Linked DNA regions of Homo sapiens. The protein of the gene in region 4 interacts with the protein of the main gene of each other region in a pairwise test. Each region holds a gene or a part of one and is shown on either strand. Other genes may lie near its edges. The genes, in order: CHERP, RNF8, DMRTB1 and RBFOX2.

Evidence for each region.
Region 1: the proteins of RBFOX2 (region 4) and CHERP interact in binary tests that used the Homo sapiens proteins (3 or more experiments, as listed by UniProt).
Region 2: the proteins of RBFOX2 (region 4) and RNF8 interact in binary tests that used the Homo sapiens proteins (3 or more experiments, as listed by UniProt).
Region 3: the proteins of RBFOX2 (region 4) and DMRTB1 interact in a two-hybrid assay, tested with the Homo sapiens proteins (3 studies listed by BioGRID).

Annotation. Positions count from the first base shown.
Region 1 is NC_000019.10:16,525,420-16,532,448, reverse strand, and holds part of CHERP (calcium homeostasis endoplasmic reticulum protein), read left to right. Parts: intron 1-1,568; coding exon 1,569-1,680; intron 1,681-1,774; coding exon 1,775-1,864; intron 1,865-2,548; coding exon 2,549-2,801; intron 2,802-4,193; coding exon 4,194-4,369; intron 4,370-6,771; coding exon 6,772-7,029. UniProt on the Homo sapiens protein: Involved in calcium homeostasis, growth and proliferation.
Region 2 is NC_000006.12:37,363,980-37,371,008, reverse strand, and holds part of RNF8 (E3 ubiquitin-protein ligase RNF8), read right to left. Parts: intron 2,632-7,029; exon of another isoform or gene 2,526-2,631; coding exon 1,791-2,525; intron 1-1,790. UniProt on the Homo sapiens protein: E3 ubiquitin-protein ligase that plays a key role in DNA damage signaling via 2 distinct roles: by mediating the 'Lys-63'-linked ubiquitination of histones H2A and H2AX and promoting the recruitment of DNA repair proteins at double-strand breaks (DSBs) sites, and by catalyzing 'Lys-48'-linked ubiquitination to remove target proteins from DNA damage sites.
Region 3 is NC_000001.11:53,462,398-53,468,016, reverse strand, and holds the end of DMRTB1 (doublesex- and mab-3-related transcription factor B1), read right to left. Parts: intron 3,381-5,619; coding exon 3,170-3,380; intron 1,423-3,169; coding exon 1,355-1,422; 3' UTR 529-1,354; downstream 1-528.
Region 4 is NC_000022.11:35,738,823-35,745,851, forward strand, and holds part of RBFOX2 (RNA binding protein fox-1 homolog 2), read right to left. Parts: intron 5,428-7,029; coding exon 5,383-5,427; coding exon of another isoform or gene 5,373-5,382; 3' UTR 1-5,372. UniProt on the Homo sapiens protein: RNA-binding protein that regulates alternative splicing events by binding to 5'-UGCAUGU-3' elements. Prevents binding of U2AF2 to the 3'-splice site.

The DNA.
Region 1 (7,029 bases), on a different chromosome or scaffold from region 4:
GTGAGCCACCAGGCTTCTGTCTCCAGGACTGCGAGGTCTAGGTGTCCTGTGCACCTTCGCTGCATGCCCTGTCCTCTCCCCTAGACCCCGGCCTCACCTGTCACATTGCTGTCTCCTGGGGGCCACTGTCCCCTGCACTCCTTCCTCTCATGGGGCAGCTTCTTGGCGTCTCCTTGTTGCCTTCTCAGCCACGGCCTCCTTGGCCTCTGTGTCTGTCTCCTGCCCTCGTCACTGATTTGCACGCACACACACGCGGTCACCTGACTTTGCTCAGCCATCAGGACCCTCCTTTGGGATCCCCTTCTCCAGCCCTGACCCATCTCTCAGGCTTCAACAGAGCCACATCTGCCGACCCTCTGTCCCCACCCAGCCCTCACCCTTCCCACTGTTGCTGTCTCCACCCTCCCCAAGGTTGGGTGGGTATTTCCTTCTACAGGGTCACTGGGGCCCTTCTCACAAAAATTAGCAAAAAAGAAAAAAAAAACAATAGAACCCCAGGCCAAAGGCCCGCACGTGCGGGAGGAGACAAGCATTGCTACTGAGCCTAGCGGGCAGCAGTCCTGGCCTGGCGCCTCGTGTGCCTCTACAGTGGGCCAGGCTGCCAGCACCCATCTCGCCCCATCTATCACATGCAGCACTGCCTGAGTCCCTCTTGCCTCCCCACCTCAGTCCCTGTTTCTCTCCTGCTGGGAAGTGAGTTGCGGCTCGGCACCAGCTCTGCCCTTCTGCTCCTCCTCATGCCTCCATTTCTCCCTGCCTCTGAGTCGGGTGCCTTGCACGGATGCACAGTTTCCCGCATTCTCCAGCCACGCGCCTCTCTAGCTCTACTCTGTCCGAAGCCAAGTGCTGCTCGCCCAGCCCAGGCCCTTGCTCCCCTGAGCCCCCTGCGGCAAGCTGAGGGCTGAGGGGCTTCCAGCTGCTCCCCTCCTGTCTTGCGTCCCTCCCCAGGGGCAGCCATCTCCCTGCGCAGCGGCAGGGGCCTCCCAGGCCAGGTATGCACAGTGTCCTGTGCAGCACTGCACAGCAGCCCTGAGAGGACATGGGCCCGGCGCCTCCCCCCGCTGGGCATCCGGTCACTCTTCTAAAGTGTTCTAGGTTCCTGAGGGACTGGGCACCCTCCCTCCTTCTCCCAAGAGGCCTGGCCTGGGCCGAGGTTTCCTTGTGCATAGTGAGTGACAAGGACAAGACCCCCACTCCGCAGCAGTCCCATCCCGCCCATCATACACAGGCAGGGGCTCCCGCCGGCCCATATCCCTTCACCCGCAGCGCCACCCAAGAGGGAAGGAGGGAAGGTTATTTCCTATCAAGGGGACTGGACCAAAAGGCCTTGCTCAGAACGGCCCCAGGCCACGTTCTCTCCCTCCCCTGCTTGCTGTTTTTCCATCTGTCCCTTCCTCGAGCCCAGGCACCAGCACAGGTCTCGTGGGAGCCCAGCCATCGCCCTGACCGGGTTGGGGACCCGATTCCCGAGAAGGCAGAGGGCGCTGAGGCTGGAGCCGCGATGGTAACGGGCGCGTGGCCGGGTCCCGCCCCAGGGCCCTGACGCGCGGAAAGTCTCTCCCTCACAGCCAGCGCAAGCAGGCCCGGGAGCTGCTGGCCGCCCTGCAGAAGGTCGTGGTGCCCATCTACTGCACCAGCTTCTTGGCCGTGGAGGAAGACAAGCAGCAGAAGATCGCCCGGGTGCGTGGGCCCCGGGCCGGGGGTTGGGCAAGACCGGGACACACAGGCCTTTCCCCTCCCCACTGACCCGGCCTCTCTCTCCTCCCACCGCCAGCTCCTGCAGCTCTGGGAGAAAAACGGCTACTTCGATGACTCCATCATTCAGCAGCTACAGAGCCCAGCCCTGGGGCTTGGTCAGTACCAGGTGAGTGTCCCTGCCCACCCACACCTCACCCTAGAGCTGGGGCGGGTTCCCCAGGAGGGTTTGGGAGTGTGGGGACAGCAGCTGCCACCCCAGCAGCCAGAGAGCCCATGTCCCCTGCCTGTGCTAGGAGTAGCCAGTGTGTGTTGACCAGAGAGTCCCAGGTGACATTTCCCAGGCCTTAGGTGTGTCTCCCTGACTTTCCTGGAACACTAGAACCAGGCGGCCTTTCGGAGTCATTGCACATGGCCCATTTGCTCTGGTGGTCAGGCATGTTCCGGTGTGGTGGAAGCATGAGGAAGCCCAGACGTGGCTTAGGCTGTGGCAGCCCCTCTTGCTGAGAGCCACATGGCGAGTGGGAGGCAGAGCCCATGAGCGTGTCCCAGAATGTTGGTGGGCAGTGTTCGCTGAGCAGCCACGAAGCGGCCAGGACACGGCTGTCGTTGCTCGTTCTGTTATCAGGGAGTCGTAAAACACGCTGCAGCGAACATCCTCATCCCCAAATCTCTGGCCAGATCCCAGCGCACACTGATTGCCCAGACTGTGTTGGCTGTTTCACGTGACGGTTCCCTGTCCACCTGCCCCAGGTCCCCCAGGCTCTGCTGCTTTCCAGGCGTTTGTCCTCTGGCGCCAGGCAGCGAGCCCCAAGGCCGCATACTGAGCAGCGGGTGCTCTTCTCTCTCTCAGGCCACCCTCATCAACGAGTACTCCTCAGTGGTCCAGCCGGTGCAGCTGGCCTTCCAGCAGCAGATCCAGACCCTCAAGACGCAGCACGAGGAGTTTGTCACCAGCCTGGCCCAGCAGCAGCAGCAGCAGCAACAGCAGCAGCAGCAGCTCCAGATGCCGCAGATGGAGGCTGAAGTCAAGGCCACGCCTCCACCGCCTGCTCCACCCCCGGCCCCAGCACCTGCCCCTGCCATCCCGCCCACCACCCAGCCTGGTACGGGGCTCCCTCAGCTCAGCCTGCCCCCAGGAAACAGCCCCCAGAGGCTGGGCACCGAGTGTAGTCAGAAAGCAGTCTGCCACCCTCAGACTCAGTTCTTGTTCCCTCGTCCCAGGCCTGCTCCTAGGCCCAGGTTTTCATCCATTTACAAGCACGAGCCAGGTGATCCTAGAGTAAAACTACAACCATCCCATTCCTGAACAGCAGAAGATCTGTTTCCTGTTCCCAGAGAAAAGAAATAGAGGAAAGGTACCCAGATCATTCCCCAAGACTAGGGTAACTATTACATCAGGCAGGAAGGACAATGCACAGACTGAAAATATAATTGGCTAGGCATGGTGGCTTACGCTTGTAATCCCAGCACTTTGGGAGGCCAAGATGGGCAGATCGCTTGAGCCCAGGAGTTTGAGATTAGCCTGGGCAACATGGTGAAACCCCGTCTCTACTAAAAATAGAAAAATGGTGCTCACCTGTCGTCCCAGCTACTTGGGGGCTGAGGTGGGAGGATCACTTGAGCCCATGAGATTGAGGCTGCAGTGAGCTGCATTTACACCACTGCACTCCAGCCTGGGTAACAAAGCGAGACCCTGTCTCAGAAAATACAATCTAGTGTCACTTCTGAAAAAGACACGGAAATACTGAAGGAAATCTTAGCAGAATCTAGCAAAGGATTTTGTTTTTGATTTTTTTTTGAGATGGAGTCTTGCTCTGTCGCCCAGGCTGGAGTGCAGTGGCGTGATCTCAGCTCACTGCAAGCTCCGCTTCCTGGGTTCACGCCATTCTCCTACCTCAGCCTCCTGAGTAGCTAGGACTACAGGCGCACGCAACCATGCCCAGCTACTTTTTTGTATTTTTAGTAGAGACGGGGTTTCACCGTGTTAGCCAGGATGGTCTCGATCTCCTGACCTTGGGATCCACCCACCTCAGCCTCCCAAAGTGCTGGGATTACAGGCGTGAGCCACCGCACCCGGCCTAGCAAAGGATTTTAAAATTACATTCTGATCAAAGAAGATTTGTTGTAGGAATATGAGGATTGTATAGAATAGAAAATAACAGATGTGGGGAAATGACCTTTTAATTAGATACAGTAAAGATGTCTAATCAAATTCAGTGTGGATAGAAATTCTTCAGCAAACCAAGAAGGCAGAAGTGAGGCCTGTTTCTTGTAAAGCTTTGAAAAGGACAGATGTGTGTCATGTTCAAGGTCGAAACCTCCCCTCGCCCTGTCCCCTTCCTGGAAGCCAGTGATAGTCATGGTTTTAGTGGGTCCTGAAGCGATCATCCACTGGGCACTAAAAGCGGTAGCCTGGTTTGCTCTGGGGTAGTGTGGAGAGGAGACAGCGCCTCCTGCTGCCAGGCCTGCTCTAACTGCCTGTCACTTGGATTTAGATGACAGCAAGCCTCCCATCCAGATGCCTGGCTCTTCAGAGTACGAAGCTCCAGGAGGGGTCCAGGATCCTGCAGCTGCCGGCCCCCGGGGCCCCGGGCCACACGACCAGATCCCACCAAACAAGCCCCCTTGGTTTGACCAGCCTCACCCCGTGGCTCCTTGGGGCCAGCAGCAGGTATTGATTGGAACCTGGGGTGGGAGCAGATGGGGCACACTTGGCCTGATGGGGTAGCCTCCCCTATGCCAGTTGGTGGGCGTTGAGTGGCTTACTGGGGAACAATGAGGGATATTCTGTGGCAGAGCTTATGCTGGGTTAGTGACAGCCCTGTCTTCCTGTGGCTCCGGGACAGGTCAAGTGACAGGTCTTCACGTCCCTTCCCCGAGCTTTGATGGTTTGGGCTTCTCTGTAGTATAGATCACCATTGTCCTGCGAGTGCAGGGGAGTTTAACGCTGCAAGGCACGGCAGGGTGTTCTGTTTCCTGTCCTCCTTAAACAGGTTAAGCTAGTTGAGTGTCAGTGTTTTGTCATCCTGGAAAGAACAAGGTGCTTTTGTAAGGAAAGGGGGAATGTCAGAAATGTCAGCCGTGTTGCCCCTGGGAGGCCTCAGATGCAGCTTTGCTATGGGTCACATACCCCTGGGCCAAGGCAGGGGCCACCTTATGTGGCACAGCATGGCTGTGAAATGCCCTGCAGCGTGCTGGGTCCACTTTCAGCACTGAGGCACAGCCCCGGGTCTTCCAGGGCGTGACTTTCCCCCTTGCCCGTGGGGCCTGGTTGGCTTCGCAGCGTGGCCTTTCCAGGTGACTCCCTGTCTGCAGGGACAGGTGTAAGGATGGCAAGGAGACTGGCTCTGGACTGAGACTTGGTGGTTGTGGCTTTGAGCCTCCCATCCCCAGCTTCAGGACACGAAATTGAACCTCACAAAAGATTGGACACCCCCATAAAGACAGCTCCCACCTCCAAGTGCTGGCCAGGAGCCAGATGGTGGTGGCTGTTTTGCAGGTACCCTCTGCTGGGGGGGGCAGTTCTTGTCCCTGTTTTGTAGGTGTGGAAACAGGCCCTTAGTGTCTCCAGGCTCAGTCTTTTTGCAGACCAGAGGGTTGGGCTCAGGACAATGGGCACGCCCCTCACTGAGGGTGCCCGCTAGGCCAGCAGTGCATCCTGCAGTCCACACTGAGAAACAGCAGCCTGGCCTGCTTGACTTGGCCATGTGGGGTCTTAACACGTTTAAAAGTAATTTCTCAAGGCAGGAAGATTGCTTGAGGCCAGGAGTTTGGGACCAGCCTGGGCAACAAGGCAAGACTCCATCTCTACAAAGAATAAAAATAAGCTGGCATGGTGGTGCACACCTGTCGTCCCAGCTACACAGTGGTCTGAGGCAGGAAGATTGGTTCAGCCAGGACTTCAGGCTTCATTGAGCTATGGTCATGCCACTGCATTCCAGCCTGGGTGACAGAGTGAGACCTTGTCTCTAAAAAAGAAAAGCAAGGCTGGGCGTGGTGGCTAACGCCTGTAATCCCACACTTTGGGAGGCTGAGGTGGGCAGATCATTTGAGGTCAGGAGTTTGAGACCAGCCTGGCCAACGTGGTGAAACCTCGCCTCTACTAAAGATAAAAAAATAGCCGGGCATGGTGCCAGGCGCCTATAATCCCAGCTACTCGAGAAGCTGAGGCAGGAGAATCACCTGAACCCGGGAGGTGGAAGTTGCAGTGAGCCAAGATCGCGCCACTGCACTCCAGCCTGGGCAACAGAGCGAGACTGTCTCAAATTAAGAAAAAGAAAAACAAGTAGTTCCTGATATTTAATATCTGGCTCTCTGGCTTCTCTTGGAAGCCTGGTGAATGTGGCAGCCTGGGCCAGCCTCCCCTTAGTAGGGGTCAGCGCAGTTACCCAGCTGTGACCCTAGACACCGGCCTTCTCATTGGCCTCTGTGCTCCTCCCCTCCCCTGCCCAAGCTGGAGTTTGCCCTCCTGGCTTTAAGTCTCCAGAGCAGAAGCTGATGAGGGAAGAGCCTCCCGTCTTCAGTCTACAGGAAGATGCTGGCTTGGTTTGAAAGTCCCCAGAAGCAGACCCCAGGACAAGGATGTGTGTGCCGCAGTGTATCTGCCCAGCAGACGGCTTTTGGGGAGAGGGGGAGTGAGGCAGGGCAGGGGGTGTCAGAGTGAGCCCCGCCCCATGGGTGCCTGGGGTGCCCTGAGAAGCGATACCGTCTGTGCCTCTGCACCTGCCCCTGAGGGGCGAGGGAGCTGGCGTTTGTCTGGCAGTGGTAGCGGGGAGCACCTTGTGGCGCGGGCGGCCTGTGTGCGGGTGCAGCGCGCCCCAGCGGCAGAAACAGCCCCGGGACTGAGATGCGGGTGCAGCGGTTGGGTGTCTGGTCATTTTGCAGCAGCATGTGGTGCGGGCTGAGAGCAGGTGCCCAGCATCCTCGCAGGCGTCAGCGTAGGAGGCGCCTCAACGTGGCCAGGGCAGCGCCTCCATGGTCTGAGCCAGCGCTGTGATGCTGCCGAGCGCTGTGATGCTGCCGAGCACTAGGGCCTAGACCACGCAGGGCTCAAGCCTGTCCCTTCCCTTGCAGCCGCCAGAGCAGCCACCCTACCCGCACCACCAGGGCGGCCCACCCCACTGCCCCCCCTGGAACAACAGCCATGAGGGCATGTGGGGCGAGCAGCGCGGTGACCCCGGCTGGAACGGCCAGCGCGACGCGCCCTGGAACAACCAGCCCGACGCCGCCTGGAACAGCCAGTTCGAGGGCCCCTGGAACAGCCAGCACGAGCAGCCGCCCTGGGGCGGGGGCCAGCGCGAGCCACCCTTCCGCATGCAGCGGCCCCCACAC
Region 2 (7,029 bases), on a different chromosome or scaffold from region 4:
CATCAGCCCCCTCCAATGTGGAAGCTTTCCAGGTGATCATTAACCTATATGTCCAGCACCTTCCAAAAGAACTTCTGGGCCCTTCTGTCCTTAAGAATTACCTACCCATTTAATATGCCAACTTGAAATTGTTCTCTAATTTACTATATTGACTGAAAACTATTCTCTGATTATATCGTGTGCAGGAAACATCTTGCCTCCTCAACAAGATAAATTCCTTAATGGCAAAAACCATTTGGTAAGCATCTTTATAACCACTAGAATTCCCTAGTACCAGGCAATTTGAGTACTTAAAAAAAAAAAAAAAGTGTGAAGGAGCAAGGGTTTAATGAGCTTCTAAACCAGCAGTAGGGGATAGGATAAATCCTCAGGGCTTGGTGGGCAGAGGGAGATGCAGCTGATAAACAAGGGACTAGATACACTTCACTATGAGCATCATATACACAACCAACTCATACCCAGAGAAATTCTCTAAACCAATCCTTTCGCCTTTAACATTTTGGTACAGAAAAAGATTTTGCAGCTATACCTTGAGGCATGTCCAGAGCAGCCACAAATATTAAGCAACAGTAACTTGTTCCTGAACATATTAGCCTTTACAGAGAGTTCTGTCCTGGTGAAGGTGTGATATACTAAACACGTAGACATAAACCACCCTCTATTAATTTCAAGAACTAGTCTAGGCTGGATAAGGGAAGCAAAAAGGTACACATAAGTAAGCAGTGTATACTCTCAAAAGACCTATTTAATCCATGGCCTTTGCTAATACTGTCAGTTCAAGGGGATGGCAGAGATCAGAATGAAATTTATAAATTGCTCAGAAATAAGCCAACACTACCCCTGGCTGTTCCTTACCCTGAGCAACCCAAACAAAAAGCTTATTCACTTTAGTTGTGACTGGTCCGTCTGAGTTCTAAGTCAACAATGGGGAATTCTTGACATTCAATATTATCTGAGCAACTGGGTGGGAGCAAAATATGTGGTTCCTGCCAGATAGGAAATGACATTTTGAGCAGGGACAGGATCTGCTCTAGCCTAAAGCTTTGTGCAAGAGCTTGTCATCTAAGCAAATGACTGAGGGATGGAAATACATTTGGTCTTACCTTTATACAGCTAAGACAGTCATTATTTTACCTTCCTACTATAGGCACTGTGGAAGGTGGTTTATCATTCAACCCAACAATGCAGTCATGGTGCATCTGTCCCATCACATGCTGGCTGCTCAAAATAGAAACAAAAACATTTTCTGCCTTTTTAGCCCCTCACCTCCTGGCTTAGCTACAGAGTTAACTAACCTTTATAGCTAACAAACTGTCAGGTACCAGGGCAGAGGAACCAGCTGACCTGTACCTGCCCTGAGACTAAGTGATTTGGCCTTGGCCACAGAGCAAAGATACACAAGTCTTGAAGACAACTATTGATTCAATTGGACTATACTGTGGTTTTGTGGCATGTTGACCTTCACCTAACTTCCCCCTGAATTCATGTTGGTTCTGAGTTGCCTCAGCTTTGCCTCCTGGGATGAGTTATGCCCTGGCTGGCTCTGCTGGTCACTTTACCCTATCTTGGCACTCTAACTCTGGCTCCTGATCTCATCAGCATGCTGAAGCCTTAACCCTCTACTCAATCCCCTTCCCTTATCTCAAAAGTTTACTGTTCCCATTCCATTTCCTGTCTTTGGTGCTCAGAATTTGGTACCTGGCCCAGAAACTGAGAACTCTGGCCAGAGACTCATGAAGTGCCTGCCCCACCCCTGAAGACCACTCTTGCCCTTCCCTTCTGTGTGGTACCTGAAGATGCTGTTCCTCTTCCTGGAAAGTCTTCTCTAGTTGCTCCACTCTTGCCTGCTGCTGAGCCTGCTCTGCACACAGCTGGGACTGTAAGTCCTGAAGTTCCTGCTCCATTTGCACAACTTTCTTTGAGTTCCCCTTTTGGGTCTGCTTTTTCACATTCATAACGGCTTCATGTTTTTCCTGCATCTGTATTTTGAGCCTCAGAATCCTGGACATGGTCACCTTAAACATCTGTAAGCTTCTCTGAGATGCTGAAGAGTTTGAGGCTTTCTGCTCATGATGAACCTCTGTGACTTTGGGGAAGCCAGGGTAAATGGGAGCCCCTGTGGTCTTACTTGGCTCAAGGGCAGTCAACTTAGGATCCAAATTGTCAGAGGGTGTACTGGCCACTTCACCTTTCCCCTGTGATTTCACTGGCTGACCAGATTCACAAGACACTTTATTTATTTTGGATTTCAAATTTGAGGGGCCTTCAGCTCCAGGACCTGCTAATTCATCCAAACTGAATTTCCTTTTAGTTCTCAATTCCTTATTTTTTTCTATCATTTGGTCATTCTTTGGGGAAAGACAAGGATATATTGTCTCCCAGTCTTCTTCAGTAACTTCATATTCATACTCCGCATTCTCCTTATTTTCCAGAGGCACTCCAAGTTGGATGTAGTCTCCCTGATGAATGGAATAGACCCTTAAAGGTTCCAGACGCGCTCTGTTCAGCCAAACACCATTTAGACTCTGGGGAAAGTGAAAGAAAGAAGAAATAAGCTTCATGATTTTCGTCTTCTTAAAGGAATCTCTCTCCTGCTGCTGTAAAATCTTCTGCCTTTTCAGAAGGAAAACTCTTGATAACAAATAGAAAAGAAAGATTCATAAACGACCATCCTTAGAAACAGCATTCGTCAAGCAGTGCTTTGGCTTTTTACCTATATTTCACATTCATGCCTCCACAGAGAACTGCCATATAACAGGCAGGAATCACCTTATTATTGGTGGATAATTTACTCAAACACATGGAATAGCATTAAAGGAAACTGAAATTGGATAGCTCCTATTAACCTAAACTGGAGCAATGTCCCAAAACTAGAAAAAATGCTATTAGTGAAGAAAGCAGTAGCTAAGGGTGAGGTCCATGAAGTAGTTTCAAATGCTATCTCTGGATGTGGTTCCTTAACGCACTGGTAAGCAAGCAAGCACACATAAACCAAAAAAAAGAGAGTACTATATCTGGTACTGGGGTCAAATGGCAGGTAGGATCTGACCCAATTAATATCAACAGGGGTATATGGGCAATACAGGATAGCGGTTAAGAGCTGGAGCTCTGGACTCAGATGTGGGTTCATAGTCTGCATAGCATTTGGCAATTTACTTAACCTCTCCATGCCTCAGTTTTGTCTGCAGAACAGGGATGGTACAGTACCTACCTCACACTGTTCCAGTGAGGAATGAATAAGATAATGCATGTAAATCACTTAGCACAATGACTCACATAGAATAAATGCTTAATAAATATTTACTGTCTGGGAGTGGCAGCTTACATCTGTAATCTCAGCACTTTGAGAGGCCGAGGTGTGCGGATCACTTGAGGCCAGGAGTTCAAGACCACCCTGGCCAACACAGTGAGACCACCTCTCTACTAAAAATACAAAAATTAGCCAGGTGTGGTGGTGGGTGCCTGTAATCCCAGCTACTTGGGAGGCCAAGGCATGAGAATTACTAGAACCCAGGCGGCAGAGGATGCCGTGAGCCAAGATTGCATCACTGCACTCCAGCCTGGGTGACAGAGCGAGACTCTGTCTCCAAAATAAATAAAATAAAATAAAAATTTACTTTTATGGTTTTAATGAAGTCATAGTATTGAGGTTAAGAGCACAGATCCTGGAGTCAGACTGCCTGGGTTTGTAATGTGGCTCTATCATTTAGCAGCTGGGTGATGTTGGCCAGGTTTCTTGACCTCTTTATGGCCCAGTTACTGCACTGATAAAATGGAGGAAAATAAGTCTCTCCCTCATGGTGTCTGTGTGGATTTAATGAGATAACATATGGCAAGTATTTAGACAGTGCCTGGGCATCGTATTACGTAAGTGTTCACTACTATTACTATGCCTTGGTTCAACTGATTCATCAACAATCATTTCAACTCTATGCTCAATGTCACGCAAGGTAAATATATTGAGTGAAAAGGACATGAAAGCTTTCAGCAGCTGATGGTGGAAAAGACAACACAAGGGCACAAATGAGCAAATGTGGGATTACATGGCATAGCCTGTAAATGCAAAGGAATATCATGTGCAGCTGGGATAGCTATGGGATGCTAAATGGAGATGATAGGTCCTAAAATAGACTTGAAACAAAGGCAAGATTCAGAGTTGAAATATACTGGTGAGCATTTTAACCCGTATCAAGGACTTAAGTTCAGGGGATAGGCCAGAGATGAAGCTCACTTCTGAATTGGGACCAAGATTTATGTTTACACTGGCAACTACAGCTACCTACTTTCAGCTAGAAAAAAATCTCCAGTCAACCCAAATATGAGGGACAGGGGGCTTGACCACAAGGCACAGAGGGTAAAGGGAAAGTAGAGATCAGATCTTAGCTCTGGTTTGGCATTAGGCCCTTGTTTCCAGTTTTATCTTCCATTACTTGGTTTACACGGAAAGAAAGACTGGCATAGATACATACAGAAATATTAGTCTTAACCCACTGTGCATTGGGCCTAACCTGGTTCATCTAGGAAACCTCCTCACACTCTTTCTATTCAGCCTGAGAAACTATGGGGAGTGATAAGGTTTGCTGAATTTTGAAACAACATATGAGAAATAACAACAGAGAGGGATGGAGCTAGAACAATCTATCTGAGAACAATTTTAGAGCAGGACAGTCGATTTTAGATTATACACAGGAAAAAGGTCTCAGAAAAAGTAGTAAGACACAGAAGGCCACCTAATGCCAAGGTACAGAAATTTAAAGGAAGTCTCCAAAGCTAAGATAAGGTAAAATAAATAAATAAGATTACAGAAACAGCCCACAGCTAAAGAGAGTAGGAAGTTTGCCCTCAGAACTTCTGAGTTCTGACAGTCCACAGCTAAAGAGAGTAAGTTTGCCCTCAGAAGCTGGGGCAAACTTTCACGATATGTTGCAGCCTTCCATTAGATCCTCTACATTAACCCATTGCCTTCAGAGCCCTTTTAGAAGCTGGAAGGTAAACTCAAAATTCTCCCATCACATTTTGTCCTTGGATCCTTGTACATTTACCCATTCATTACTTCTTGGTGACATCTAGTGGTATAATTTAAACCAAGCCCTGAGTCAGGTCTGTTCATATAAGGAGACTAGAAAAGGACAAAAATCCCATGGCGGTACAGAACAATCAAGTACTGCCAGATATGATCTCAAATACAATGGCTTAAATAATCATGCTCTGTTCAAGGCTTTCTTAATGTTGGTTTTCATAACTACCCATTTGAACAATGCTAGCAGCAGAAAATGATACCCAGAAAAGTCTGCCTGATGTGTCCTAGCCACCAATGGGAAAAAAGTGGGATAATTCACATCCACTTAGACAGGAATTACTTCACTAGATGCTCAATCTCTGTCCAGCTGCTTTTAAACAGTTATTGAGGAAAGTGGACACTCAAACCAAAAGACAATGTTTTCTTGGAGTGCTTTAGATAATTTACGTAGCTCAGTGGTTCTCAACCCTGGCTATACAGTAAAACTACCTGGGAAGGTTTAAAACAAAGAGCAGTGCCTAGGTTTCACCCTCGGAGTGAGTTAAGTGGTCTGAGATAGGAACTAAGTATCAGTATTTTAAAAGTTACATTTATCTATAAACACATATAGTTGTGTAACTATATCAAGAAACAGTGCCCCTTGGTAGTCAACCTTTCCCGCATTCCCAGGCAACTACTTATCTGTTCTCTTCTCTTTCCCAGAATGTAATACAAATGGAATCTTATTATCTACACTTTTGAGTCTTGCTTCTTTCACTTAGTGTAACGCCTCTGAGATTCGTCCACACTGTTGCATTATCGGCAGTTTGTTATATTTTATTGCTGAGTAATATTGAAGGTAGTAGGGGTGGAGCACAGTTTATCCATTCCCTAGTTGTTTTTTTTCCCAGTTTTTGGTGAATATTAATAAAGCCACTACAGGCCAGGTGTGGTGGCTCACGCCTGTAATCCTAACACTTTGGGAAGCCGAGGCAGGTGGATCAGCTGAGGTTAGGAGTTCAAGACCAGCCTGGCCAACATGGTGAAACCCACCTCTACTAAAAAGACAAAAATTAGCCAGGCGTGGTGCCGCATGCCTGTAATCCCAGCTACTCGGGAGGCTGAGGCAGGAAAATCACTTGAACCCGGGAGGCAGAGGTTTGGGGAGCCGGGTTCACGCCATTGCACTCCAGCCTGGGCAAAAAGAGCGAAACTCCATCTCAAAATATAAAAACAAAAAAAATAAAGCCACTAGAAACATTCACATACAAGTTTCTGCGAGAACATAAGCTTTCATTAATCTTGGGTAAATACCTAGAAATAGGATCACTGGACAAGTATATATTTGACTCTTAGAAACCACCAGTTTTTCAAAGTGGAGGTACCATTTTATATTCACACTTGAATGTTGAGGAGTTCCAGTTATTCTGCATGCTTGCCAGCACTTGGTATCATCAAGTCTTATTTCAGCAATTGTATTAAGTATGTATCCGTCAATATATTTTTTAAAGTCTTTACTAAAGCGGAACATGCAAACATAAACGTGCACAAATCATAAATGTACCAACTCGATGAACAGTCACAAAATGAACATCTTAGTGTAACTACCATAAGGTCAAAAACAAAACAAACCCCACATTATCAGCATCCCAGAAACCCCTGTGTGTCTCCTTCTAGTCAGTAGCCACCTTGGCAATAAAGTGACTACTATCCAGATTTAACAGCACATGTAAATTTTGCCTGGTTTTAAACATTGTATAAATGGCATCATATAATATGTATTCTTTTGTGTCTGTCTTCTTTCACTCAATTTTTTTTTTTTTTTTTTTTTGAGACAGAGTCTCGCTCTGTCCCCCAGGCTGGAGTGCAATGGCCTGATCTCGGCTCACTGCAAGCTCCGCCTCCCAGGTTCATGCCATTCTCCTGCCTCAGCTTCCAGAGCAGCTGGGACCACAGGCACCCGCCACCACGCCTGGCTAATTTTTTATATTTTTAGTAGAGACGGGGTTTCACCATGTTAGCCAGGATGG
Region 3 (5,619 bases), on a different chromosome or scaffold from region 4:
TTCTAGTATGAATCCCCTAAGACTCTCTGTCTCTCCCACTAGATGTCATGTTCCTCATGGGCAGAGCTGGGAACTGTCAAGTTCTGAATCTAGTAGAAACACAGGATGTTTTCTAAATGAAGGTATAAATGCAACCAATGGAAGAAGCCGAGGACCCTAAAACAGAATTGGTTCAAGTTCTGTTTTTTTAAATGCATGTTCCTATGCAGGGACTATGGAAGGAGCTGGAGGAAGGAAACTAAGACATCTTTACATTTTGTGTGTCTACATCAGATTTCCTTAAAAGGTCTCCATTGCTTAAAATAACAACAGTAATAATAAAGAAGTCTACTAGCCTGGCCCAATCCCCTCACTTGATAAAGAAAGGGGAGGTAGAACAGGGAGGGCAGGAACTAAAAATAGGAACTAAGCAAGTGCAGACAAGGCCAGCCACAGGCCACAAACCAAGGCCCCCAATCTCCCCAACTCAGGCTCCTGCCAACCCTACCTTCCACCAGGATCAAAGGGAGAATAAGCCTTCCACAAGGATTTCCATTGCTCATTTTATTTCAATAGCCAACTGTCCTCACAGAAGAAACTGTTCATGTCACAGGTGATCAGAAGCACCATTCTATTCCCTAGGGACTGCATCAGTGCTTATGAACAGCCTACTTTTTAAAGTTGGCAATCACTATAAAAACATCAAATAGTCAAACTAATAAATTTTTTAAAACCAGTGCCCATAATGGCTGAAACTTTATGGAGGGGGAATGAAGTAGCCCCAGCAGCCAGGATGCTTGCTAGTAAAACCCCTTAGAGGAGGGGCAAGGGGCTGTGGCCAGGAAGATGTGGGGGACAGAGCAGCAAGGCAGGATGCTGCAGAACCTGCTGTCAACGACCCTGGTCCTGGCTGCTGGCTCCAGCCACCTGGATGAACTGGAATCTTGATGTCTGTGGTGCCCCCAGCAACCTGGAGGACCAGGCAAAGGCAGCAGAAGGCTGAAATAGATGGTGCCTCCTGTCCTAGAGTGGGGCCTGAGGAAATCAAATACTGCCTCTGGGGCTTGTTCCAATAAATGGTAGTGTAACCCAAGGACAGTTAAATTCATTCCTAAATGGGAGCTTCTCCCAGCGCCCACTCCTCAGAGCCCTGGCCCTCCCCTGGTAATAGCTTCCTCCACACTCTTCTTCAACTGTACAGCGCAGGATTGAAACTTAGAAATTGCTCTCCTTCCTCCTATCTTAAACTGGGAATCAGTTGCCATCTATGCTATCAACCTCCTTCCTCCCTACATATCACTGAATGAAGACAAGAAAACTGTTGCTGTTGCCCCCCAGTGCCCCACTCTGCTGGCCAGGAGGGCGGGCCTGGGGCCTAGTCGGACTGCTCCTGAGACGATGGCTGGCTGGGCTCACCCGACAGTACCTCTGCATCCTGGTCATCTGTGAAGGACAAAGAAGGTAGCTGGATTTAGAAAGAGCGAAAATTACAACTACCTATTTGCAGATGAAGATTTTCTTTTTTCTTATTTTATTTTAATTTTTTTGAGACAGAGTCTCGCTCTGTCACCCAGGCTGGAGTGCAGTGGTGTAATCTCAGCTCACCGCAACCTCCACCTCCCAGGTTCAAGCAATTCTCCTGCCTCGGCCTCCTGAGTAGCTGGGATTACAGGCACCCGCCAACATGCCCAGTTAATTTTTGTATTTTTAGTAGAGACAGGGTTGCCCCATGTTGGCCAGGCTGGTCTTGAACTCCTGACCTCAGGTGATCCACCCACCTCACCCTCCCCAAAGTGCTGGGATCACAGGTGTGAGTCACTGTGCCCAGCCCAGATACAGATTTTCCATAAGCCTTTCTCATCATTCCCAGCCCTAGGGGAGAATGTATTTTCTTTAACTTGTTAGGCGCCAGGAGCCTGGAATCCTAGCCTTGGCCATGTGATTCAGATTCAAGTTCCAGCTCTTGCTCTGCTCGTCACAAGCTGGGAGGAATTAGCAAGATACTCCACAGCTCTGAACCTCAGCTTCCCCTTCTGTAAAATGAGACGTATCCACCTTGCAATGGCAGCATGGGCACTAAGTGAAACAGACAGTGATAGGCCACCTTCACCAATGCCTTCATCACTTCAGGTTCTGTTTAATCCTCAGAATCCTCATGAGGTAGGGACCATTATTAGTCTCCTTTTACACATGATGAAACTGGAGCACCAAAGAGTAAATGAGCTTGCTCAAGTTACACAGCTGGGCAAGTGCTGGAGCCAGGACTCACACCCAGGCCACCCAGCACTGGGGCCAGTGGTTTTCAGCCACATGAAACCACCTCTCCAGCTACTGGATCTAGGCACTGCACACACAGGAAGTGTGCAACAGGCCTCAGTTTCCTCTTCAGTAAAATGGTGATACCACCAGACTCCTCTAGCTCATAAGATGGTCTGACAGTCATTTTAAAGGCCTAGTTGAGTTTGTCAGTTCTTTCCAAATCATAGGAGCCCCAGGGGAAGACTGAAAGGAAAAATGTCCTAGAAGCTTTAAAGCTGCAAGGGCCCTCAAAAGAAAACCCAAAACATTTTCACATCCAAAAGTTTCTTCGACCCTCACAGTAACCTAGTAAGGGGGCCCCTTTTATAGTTGAAAAGCCTCAGTGCCCAGGATCATCCAGTGCCCCAGTGGCAGAGCTTGTGAAGGACAGATTCTCTAGCTCCTGGTCTGGTTCCCTCAGAGTGGCCTGGGGCAGAGGCACAGCCCCACCACACGGGTTCCTGCTGCTGCTCCAGTCTCTCCATCTGCTCCCCTACCCCAGCTAGAGAGGCCTGGCACCTCTGGTCTTCCAAACACACCATATGCCTGCTGTCTTCCACAGCACCGCCCACGAGCCAATAAGGTGAGTGAACAGGCACTAGACTGGGAGCTAGACTGAAAAACTCTGTTCAAATCCCAGCTCTGCCATTTATACCCAAGAGAACTGCTGGAGGCCCTGGTTTCCTCACCTGGAATCCCATTCCCACCTCCCTTAGATGTGTGCCTATGGGGACTGGAGGAAGGGTGTAAGAAGGAGCTCATTCTAGGGCTCAACACCCTTTAAATTCCATGTCCCTTCTCTCCACACCTAACCTTTCTTCAGATTAGGTACCTCTTCCTCCAGAAAGTCTCCCTGGCTCTCGCTGAAGCTGGAAGACTGGAGCTCACTCACCAGTGTTCTCCTTGTCAGTATCAAACAGGACGGTCAGTGAGAAAGATGATGGAGGTGGTGGTGGCGGTGGCGGGGGGAGGAAGTGGAGCGCAGAGAGGTAGCCTGGCGGGAGGAACTGGGGCTGCGGTGGAAGCGGTGGAAGGGGCGGCAGTGGCGGCGGCGGCGGCGGCAGGTAGTAGCTTGGCTGGAAGTCTCCTCCTGGTTCTGACACCTGCACGGCACACACAGCAGAGAGGCGGAGAGGAGAGAGAGTTAGCCAGATGGGCTGACCAAACATAGCTCTCACCCCTGAAGTGGGGGGCTCCTGATGGGGTAGATGCACGGCCCCAAACACACAGGCACAGGGCATTTGGAAGGGGGCATTCAGCAAACACCTGCCAAATTATTGAAGGCAAGAAGGAACACAGGCAACCTCAGATAAGCATGGGAACAGCTGAACGGTCACAGTGACAGAGCCCTTCTGTATATGCCAGGGCGATTGTGCTTGGGTGCTCAGAATCCTAGGCGGTGGGTTCTATTACTATTCTTGCTGTAATTATGAAAAACAGGTTCAGTGAGATGAAGCTACAGGCCCAGGGCCGCAGAGCTGCTTTGTGGTTAAGGGGCAGAACTGGATCCCAAGTTGGCTGACTCCATAGCCCACTCAGCTGACTTCTGTCCAGCGCTGCTCTGCACTGGGGAAGGGTCTGAACGCATCCCAACCCCACAGGACCCCCTGTCTGGCACATGTGGTGACTTAAACTCAAGTGCCAGGGGGGCCTTTGGGAGAAGAGGTTGGCAATGTGGGTGTAGCGCAGCTGTTTCTGAGGCAAGATACACTGGGTGACTTCAGGCAAGTGGCCTCACTGATGAACATTTTGCTGCTTCTGTCCCTTCTTCAAGGGATGGAATCCAACCCCTTACCACAGCACAGGGCCCCATCAGAGGATCTGGAGAGGGGATGACTGCACAACTCAGAGCTTAACCAAGAAACACACAAATGTCGTAAGAAATAATACTGAGTTTTGGATGTAGTTCCTGTCATTCACTTCTCTATCCAGATGCTTCAGAGCAACACATCCTGAGCTGAGTTTCATGGAGTCCTGGTGTCCTACAAAGTATTTTTTAGTACTCTTAAAAGTGTTCTTTGTTAAGTGAGTTTGAGAAACCCCATATACTGCTCCCCACATTAGTGGGTCACACATGAGCATATTAAAGGCTTGGAAGAGTCTGCAAAAATCTCCTTAGATTAACCCAGCACTTCCTAACTTCGTTCAACCAGCAGGAAGGGAAGAAATCTCACTTTTAAGTACCTACTATGTGCCAGACCCTGTGCTAGGTATTTTACATGCATCGCCTTATCTATTCTCAGGAGCCCTAATAGATAGGTCCTCTCACTCCCATTTTACAGACCAAGACCCGAGTGAGGTCCTCAGAGGTCAGATAACTGCCACGGGTCACGTGGCTGGGACACGACGGGGGAGGCAGAATTGGACCCTAGGTCTGCCCACCTCCAGGGCCAGTGCTGTCCTGTGAACAGGAGGGCAGAGGAAGCCAAGCAGCAGCAGGTGGGCAGGGACAGGAACAGGAAGGAGGAAACTGTTCTGGAGAGCACCTCCAAGCCTTGGCAGGGGGCAGCAGGACAAGGATGAAAGTGATTCAGGGGCTCTTGGGTTTGAAACAGCTCACAAATCAATGCCTGATTCTCTCTCCAGACTTGAGAGGGTGGAAGAGGGATTATTAGTGCTTTAATTCCAAGCTTCTCAGCCAAGCATCTCCCTGGATCACAGCTCCTGCCTGGGGCCTGTGGTGGCAGCTCAGGCCCAGATAAACCGACTGAGATCACACTCTTAACAAAGGCCGTCTGGCAGGCCTGTCAATCAGAGCGCTGCCCTGGACGCCAGGCTCCAGACTTCTGTGTGAGCAGACGGAACGTGCTTTACTTGGCCAGAGCCCCTCTCTTTGTGTGGAGGCTGGAGATGCCTGGCTCTCCCTGGGCAGTGCCCACAGATGTCAGGCAGGCAGCAGTGCTGGTGTGAGTCAAGGGCCATGTGTGTTCTACCTCTGTGGGAGGGAGGGAAGGGCAGTGGAAAGCACCTGGGCTCCAGAGTCAGGGCGACTGAGGTGCACGACCCGGCTCTGTCACCAACCAGCTGTGTAACTGGAATCCCAGTCTCTCTCTCACCAGTTTTGTGACCCTGGCCAAAAACTTAACTTCTCTGAGCCTTTTTTTCTCGATGCTACAATGGGGTATAATACCTGCCTTGAAGGTTCAATAGACACCCTGGAATTATCAAGGCCAGTGGCTTTCAAACTTTCTTCCCTTGAATCAGTGGAAAATGATTTTTAAGCACAATCTCACAACATCTAAGATAAGTGGAAGAGAAGCTGCTGCCGCCAGGCTGAAGCAGGAGTGAGGACCCAGTGACCTGTGTGCCCAACCTGCCCGGGTGAAGCTCGAGCCCCATTGG
Region 4 (7,029 bases):
AAAGCCAGCAACATGATCAATAATTTATACACATGGAGAGTAATACAAAAAAATAAGGAATAAAAGCTAAAGATCTAACTACTCCGACCTTCACAATTCCAGCTACTTGATAATAATAGGAGTAACCCAATGAATACTGTATGGTCTGAAAGCTACTATACAATATGATTCTTAACGAGAAGGGAAGGGAATTAGAGACTGTCACAAAGCCCTGGGATGCTTCTCTGGAGTTAGCAGGGAAACAGGACCCTGGGCAAGCAGCTCGGGTGTCCTAGGAAGTGATTCTGGGGGAGGACGGGAGGGGAGAGAGAAGGCTAGGTGGTCGATTACACAAGCATCCCATGTAATGCCCCCATGCCCCAAAGGTACCTGTTTTGCCATGGCAATGGGAGGGGCTGGAGGAACAGCATGTTGCATGTAGGGATGGTCCGGTCCCTGCCATGGGGAGTGGGGAGAAGAGGAGAGGTTCTGTGGCATTTTGAGCCTTGCAAAGATTTGGACTGAAAAGCTCAGAGACTCAGGTAGGTCAGCCTGTCAGGGACAAGTACACTCCACCGGCTCTCTTCTCGCTTTGCAGCCCTAGCTTACGCGTGTCAGCCCCAGGTTTGCTCCAGCTATTCACAAGCAGAATATAACACAAGAAAAACAATTCATATCCCTTAGGGAAAAAAGAGGATCAATTCATCACTCAATATATAATACAGCCAAAATGAGCTGCCAAAACAAGCACACACACAAATACTGTGAACAGAAAAATACAAGAAAATGACTAAGCTGGGAGTCTTGACGGGGTATGGACATTGCTTAAAGCACTTATCAGTCCCCAGAAAAACCAAACCAAAAACATTTTTTAAAAATTCAGAAACTCATGTACCCCCTGGGAAACTGGTGTTGGTAACAAAGGGCAGGGGGTGGGGAGAGAAAAGAGAATCACTGCTCCCTTTTTGCTCGCCAGTGTGAGTGGAGTCCTCAGGTCACCGGCATGTACACAAGTACCAGACAAGGAGGACCAAGTCCCTCTGCTGGTGGCCTCCTAAAAGGCAAGGCTTGAGTTTTGGCTGATGAGCAGTTCTCTCCGTTACCAATCCCTGCCAACCAGCACTACCATGGCTGAATTGATCTACCGTTTTCCTGAGTAAACTGTAACTGGCTACAGTTTCGGTAACATGGAAAAGAACTCAGCTACTACAGCCAACTGCAATACTTCAGGAACCCCCTCCATCCCTGGGCTCCTCACTCCTAGTGCATCTGATTGAGGAATCTGATAACTTGCTGCAGTCTGGTCTGTTAGCCTCATTTGCAAAGAAAGGTGCCAGGGACTCTATTACACTCACTAAACCAGAGGGCACACGCTGGCTTAGGACACCCAGAGCCTACTTGGAAAGGGCCCTGTTTCATGCTCTAGCTCTTGGATGGCTATTGCCTGGCTGATCAGTAAAGCAAGTATGAAGGAAGTACATAGGAAAAGGAAAGGGAGGGAAGAGGCTTTTGGACAGTAACATTTCCAAAAAAATATAGTGTTTTATGCAACAGAGAATCAAGTTTCACTGTGTATACTACAAATGGTCAAACATTTTCAAGAGCATGACAAAATAAAAACACACAAATTTACGTCTGATGTTCACCTTGCCCACTATTTTTTTTTCCTATCTTAAAACAGTGCAAACAGGTAACTTATGCTTTTAAAACACCACGACCCCTTCCCCACCCCCCAAAGTCCCTTTCCTCCTAGTATCTGGGGGAAAATCTGCAATTCTGCAAATGTTACTGCGCTAGAGGTTGCAAGCAGCGGAGAACTGGCTGAACTTGGCAAAAGGCAAGGACTGGTCAAAGCTTCCCCTTTCTCCTCCTTAAACATCTAAGTGCTTTCCAGTCTGTCCCTTGGTTGGCCTTGTTCTCCTGCCAGAGGGAAGGGGGTTCATCATGCCCTTCTTGCATATCCTTGGGGTTGCTTCCATCCCTGTTTGATGTCTCCCTCATGTCTGGAAGCTATATAACTAGTTACAGGATGGTAGTGATTAACCCACTTATCTGCTAGATCTCTAGTAAAGCATAATTCTAAGCTAAGAGCAGTTTAGCCCCTGAGGAGTCACACATTTGAGGAAAAGCTGCTATCGATGACTTCTATTGTCTAGATTTCCACTAGCTCCCCTCAGACTAAAAGTTGTGCCCCAGTCCACTTCTTTCTCAAAGAAAAAAAAATGTTGGCTCAATTCAGACTGTGGCTGTTGAAGGATGATGGTGATAGTAGGTTTTGTTAAACCTGAGAGCCTGACAAATGGTGAATCACAATGGCTGATCTGAGTTAATGGAAATTGAACTAGGTGACATGAGGAATTCTGGAAAATGCCTATGGGCAGCTCTCTGGGCTCTAAGAGGGACATGGAGATAAAGGTGTTCACTAGAGGCCTCCTTTAAGGAGCCCAGCTTCCAAGAGTACAGAAAGTCCAGGTCATGAACTATAGTAAAGCTGAAAAAGAATCATGCATGTACTGTGATTTAGCATCAGTAAGTTTTCTGGAATTATCAGCCAGCATCCTCTAACAAACTCACGAAATGCCAGACTCCTCTGACTCTCTTTTTTAATACAGTGAGAACCAGAGTCAGGAACAGACAAGCAGTGCTGCTTCGAGCAACCTGCCTCTGGTGAAGTTGACCGTACGGAGTCTCAAAGTTCAAAAGGTGACGGGGAGGTTGATACTGTGAAATCCAGATGCTTGCAAGAGCCCCAATTCTCAGTGTTGACACTGAAAACCAAAGACCCTTTCATAAAAAGCAGAACTCCATTTATTCTTTCTTAGAAAAGGGAGCTGGAGGAAGCGGTGTTAAACACCATCCCTGGAAATGCAGCAGAAACCACTGGAAAGCACAGAGCTTGCCTTTGGAGGCCTCAGCCAGAACCAGCTGAACTGAGATGCACTCAAGGTGCCTCAAGCTCAAGATTCTGCCTCTCTTAAAAGGTCTGTGGGAGCCGCCTTCTCTACCTTTCCCATTATCCTTACCTCTTTCTAGGAAAAAAGAAGAGAAAAACTCTTAAACTCATTCTCCTATTCTCCCCTGCTATGGATAAAACCATTTAGAATTTGGCCTAGTCTCCACTGAATACGTGGCTTGCCATCTTTTGGGAATGGCCCCTTTGTGATCATGACCCCAAACTTCTGTTTTTTTAGTCAGCTAAAGTTCTCCCTCAAAGCAAAAGCAAAAGCAAAATCCTCCCTGCCCCCATTCCCTAGAACTGTGAAAGCCCGCATCCCATTCCCCGCTCCTCTAACTAAAATATTTATATACATACAACAAAAATTGTCTTAACAGCAACAAACCAAACTTTGGCTTGGGGTGGGGGGACCCTTAAAAATGGCCAGTGGACTGGGCAGTTGGTGTCCCCTTATTCTCTGTCTTCCTCCCCAGAGTCAGTAATAATTGCATCGAGGCCTCTAGCTTCCTTGACATCGCCCCTAGTTTCAGGCACAGCCTCTCTCCCAGTTACGAGGCGAGACAGGATTCTGAAGGGGGAAAGGATATGTATTCTACACAACAGGTCAACGCCCTCTCAGATATATCACTCTGCTTACAAAGAATGCTTGATGCTGTCATAGGTCAGTCATTTTAATTCAGGGACATGAGTCAGTTATCAGTCAAGAACATGTGTGGAGGCAGGAGTTAAAAACAAACCCAAAACAAACCCATAACCAGAAGCTCCATGTCTCTGAATTACTCCCTTTAGCAGCTGTCCCTTGGGTGAAAGGTCACCCTAGTACCAATGTGACTAGACCAGGGAGCCAAAAAGACCGTGCTTTTCTATTTCCTAATGCCTTCATTTGGGAAATGCTGTAGGACACTTGCTTTTATCAGTTCTATCTAACAGCTAGAAGAGAAACACTCCCTCCTACCTTGATAACATAGAAAATTACAGCCAGATGGCAACGGCAGTGACTCACTGCGCGACTCTTTCTGGTGATATAGAAGACCCTTGCCATCGCAGACCCTCCTTCCAATATGGGAGGGCAGCAATCTCAGGGCCTCTGCATTTTATGTCCTGTAGTGTTAATGTGTACAAAGTGGTCCGGGTGCTCAGCGGGGTGTTTTTGGAGGACAGTGAGAAGCTCAGCGGGATAGCCACAGGCTCAAGACTGTGGATAGAGAAGTGACTCATAAAGGCTCTGGAAGATGAAAATTCCTATGGCTTTGGAGCAAGTACAAAGTGCCTCTGCCTGCCCTTCCATGTCCTCATCACCAAAACTTCCAGGGACTACTGACCTAGGACCTGGTACTCTATCTTTCCCCAGCAGATTCTTTATTCTATTTTTTAAACTTTGTACTTTCTGAGGCAAGAAAAAAGTAAGAAATACCAGATCTTCTAATATTCCTTTTCCCTTCCTCACCCTCTTTAATGGCTGTCAACAATTTGTACTTCTAATCCTCAAGACATCTGGGGGAAATCTGGTCACTGGCTTATTCACTTTTCTGTCCCTGGGTCCTAAATTCCTGAATCTTATGGACATGAGAGCAGGGTGTTAATAAAAGAATACATGAGCTAAGCTGTGGTTCAATTAAAGGAGAAGAAGCCTAGAAGGAATGCTAGGTTACAGGAACAAAAAGAAATGATCTTTTTCATACTCCAGAGTTCATTCTGAGATCGGTTTCCTAATGAGGTGTTTATTATCCACTGTCTGAGAGCACGTTTGGAAATATCAATACTATAATTCCAAAAACTATGCCAGCTGTCTCAGGCTGTGCGTGTAAGATGATTGTAAAAAGAACGGAGAAGACAGGAGGGAAGAGGAGAGGAAAGCGTCTTTTTAATTCTCCTGCTTTGTAAGCACAAATTCCTATCTATCAGCATGTGGATTCCAGCCACAGCCAACCAGAATTGCCTGTCAAAGACCAGAAACTCAGAAGACTAGAAGAATATCCTGTTGCAGAAAGATCTCTTCCACTTCTGCTTGTCCCCCAGTCATTCAGCACCAGATACACTTTGGTAATTCTGTCTGCTGATTTCTGATCAGATGCATTTATCGGCTCCTAATGTCTCTCCTTCCTCCTTGACTGCCTCTTCCGTGATTGATAGAATAAGCTAAGCACGGACATACAGACATGGAAATGCATTATTTTTTTTTTTTTTACCACAGTTTAAAAAAAAAAAGAAAAAAATGCACAATCTTTGGAACAAAAGAATTAAAGGCAGAAATTTAAAGGAAAAATACATATTCAAAGAACATAGTGAGGTATAAAAAAGTATTCTTTCTTTTTTTGTGTTTTTTTTTGTTTGTTTGTTTGTTTTTCCTCTTCATCTTGCTATAGAGTTCCTCTACTAGTAAATATTGCAATAGCCAGGCCTCATGAACTGGGGGGCTGTCCCATTTGCAGGGGTCTCACGTCACTTCAGTAGGGGGCAAATCGGCTGTAGCCACCTCGGTATAAACTCGCCTGCAGTAATTAAAGAGATAAAAATAATTAAAAGGTTGATGAGAGAAGCATTAACAGTGAAGAAAAATGTCCAGAGAGGGATCTAGAAACAGCCTGCTTCGAAGCCTCAAAGCAACTGATCAAGCATTGCCTTGTGCAGTGAAGTCAGGAAACCAACTTCTGCTTCTAAGGTGCTCAGACCAGAGCCCAACACATTTATTGCTGACCTGATATTCTCAAGGAGAGTATGACGACATTTTATTTCATTATTTACATGAATTAGCACAGAAGGGAAACAATACACAGTTGAAAACAAGTTCCGCAAAGAGTTTGATTTTTAAAAGCACAGGTTTTTGTTTACCTTGATACAGCCTTATAATCCTGGTGGAAAACAGATCACCAGTTTCTCCTTCTCACATATGACCCATCGGCAGTGCACGTTACTTCTGACACGATCCCTGCCATGTGTGGTCACAGCCCATGTTTGAGATGGTGCCACATCTAAACCTGAGCCAGTCTTTAATAAAGTCTGTTTCCTCTATCATCTACGAAGCACACCAACTAGGCTGTTTCTTGACATATTCACATTTACATATCTAGCTGGGGTTTTAACTAGGCTTTATTCCTTTATGTTTATCAAATGACTTTATCTAATGGCTTATCTCTTTCAATTAGAAGTTTCCCAGGAATGCATCTTTCTCAGGTCATTCTTTTAGCATAGGACTTATATCATTTTAGGACGAAATACAACCTCAGGCACTTCTACCACTGCCGTTATATTGTAATGCTCTACTTCATTTATAAACATATATTCCCTCAGGGCCCCCTATTACTTCCTTCCACAAATCTTCATCAGTAGAAATTTGGTGTGAGAAGTAGCTTTCTCATATTCCTTTAGGTCTTACATTTTACATTTCATTCTGTCTCCTTTTCAAACAACTCTACCCATGTCCAGAGGTAGTTGCCCAGTTGCATTTTGGATTAGAGAGAAAGCCCTGGCAGAGGTGTCACTGTGGAATGGCCTGTCTTTGTTGCAGCCTGTGAGTCCTAATCACTGAAACTGGAGGCATCCAAGCCAACACAATAATACTGCAGTGAGGTGGTTGGTCAGAAGAAATTATGCTAGTTCTATGGACTTCTTCGATACTTCTATCAACAACACCATATTTTGCCACAATTGTTATCAATAATCAATAATAAAATATCCTATAAAGCATTCACTTAGGAATTTCTAGTACTATCTACCAGAAGGCTTAGGAAGAGCAGAGACATCCTTTAGATTTGCATTTGAAACTTAAGTTTTTGAAAAGCTTACTGTGAATACTACAGCCTTATGCTCCATGCTCCTTTGCCAACACCTATCAATGAAACTATGCCACAGGTATGCACTCAACATTTGAACCAATAGAAAACATTCACCAGTTCCCCTATTTCTCTCGCAAATCATGCCACTACTCGGGGCATATTATCAATGATCATTCCTTTCTGCTGCCCTTAACTAGGCCATGTGGCTCACATTATAATAACACACAAATAAAGAGGGTGACATGAAACTTCCAGGTAGATCTATGTGGCTTTAATACCTTGATGGTGGATGAAAGGCTGAATTTACTACCTCCCTAG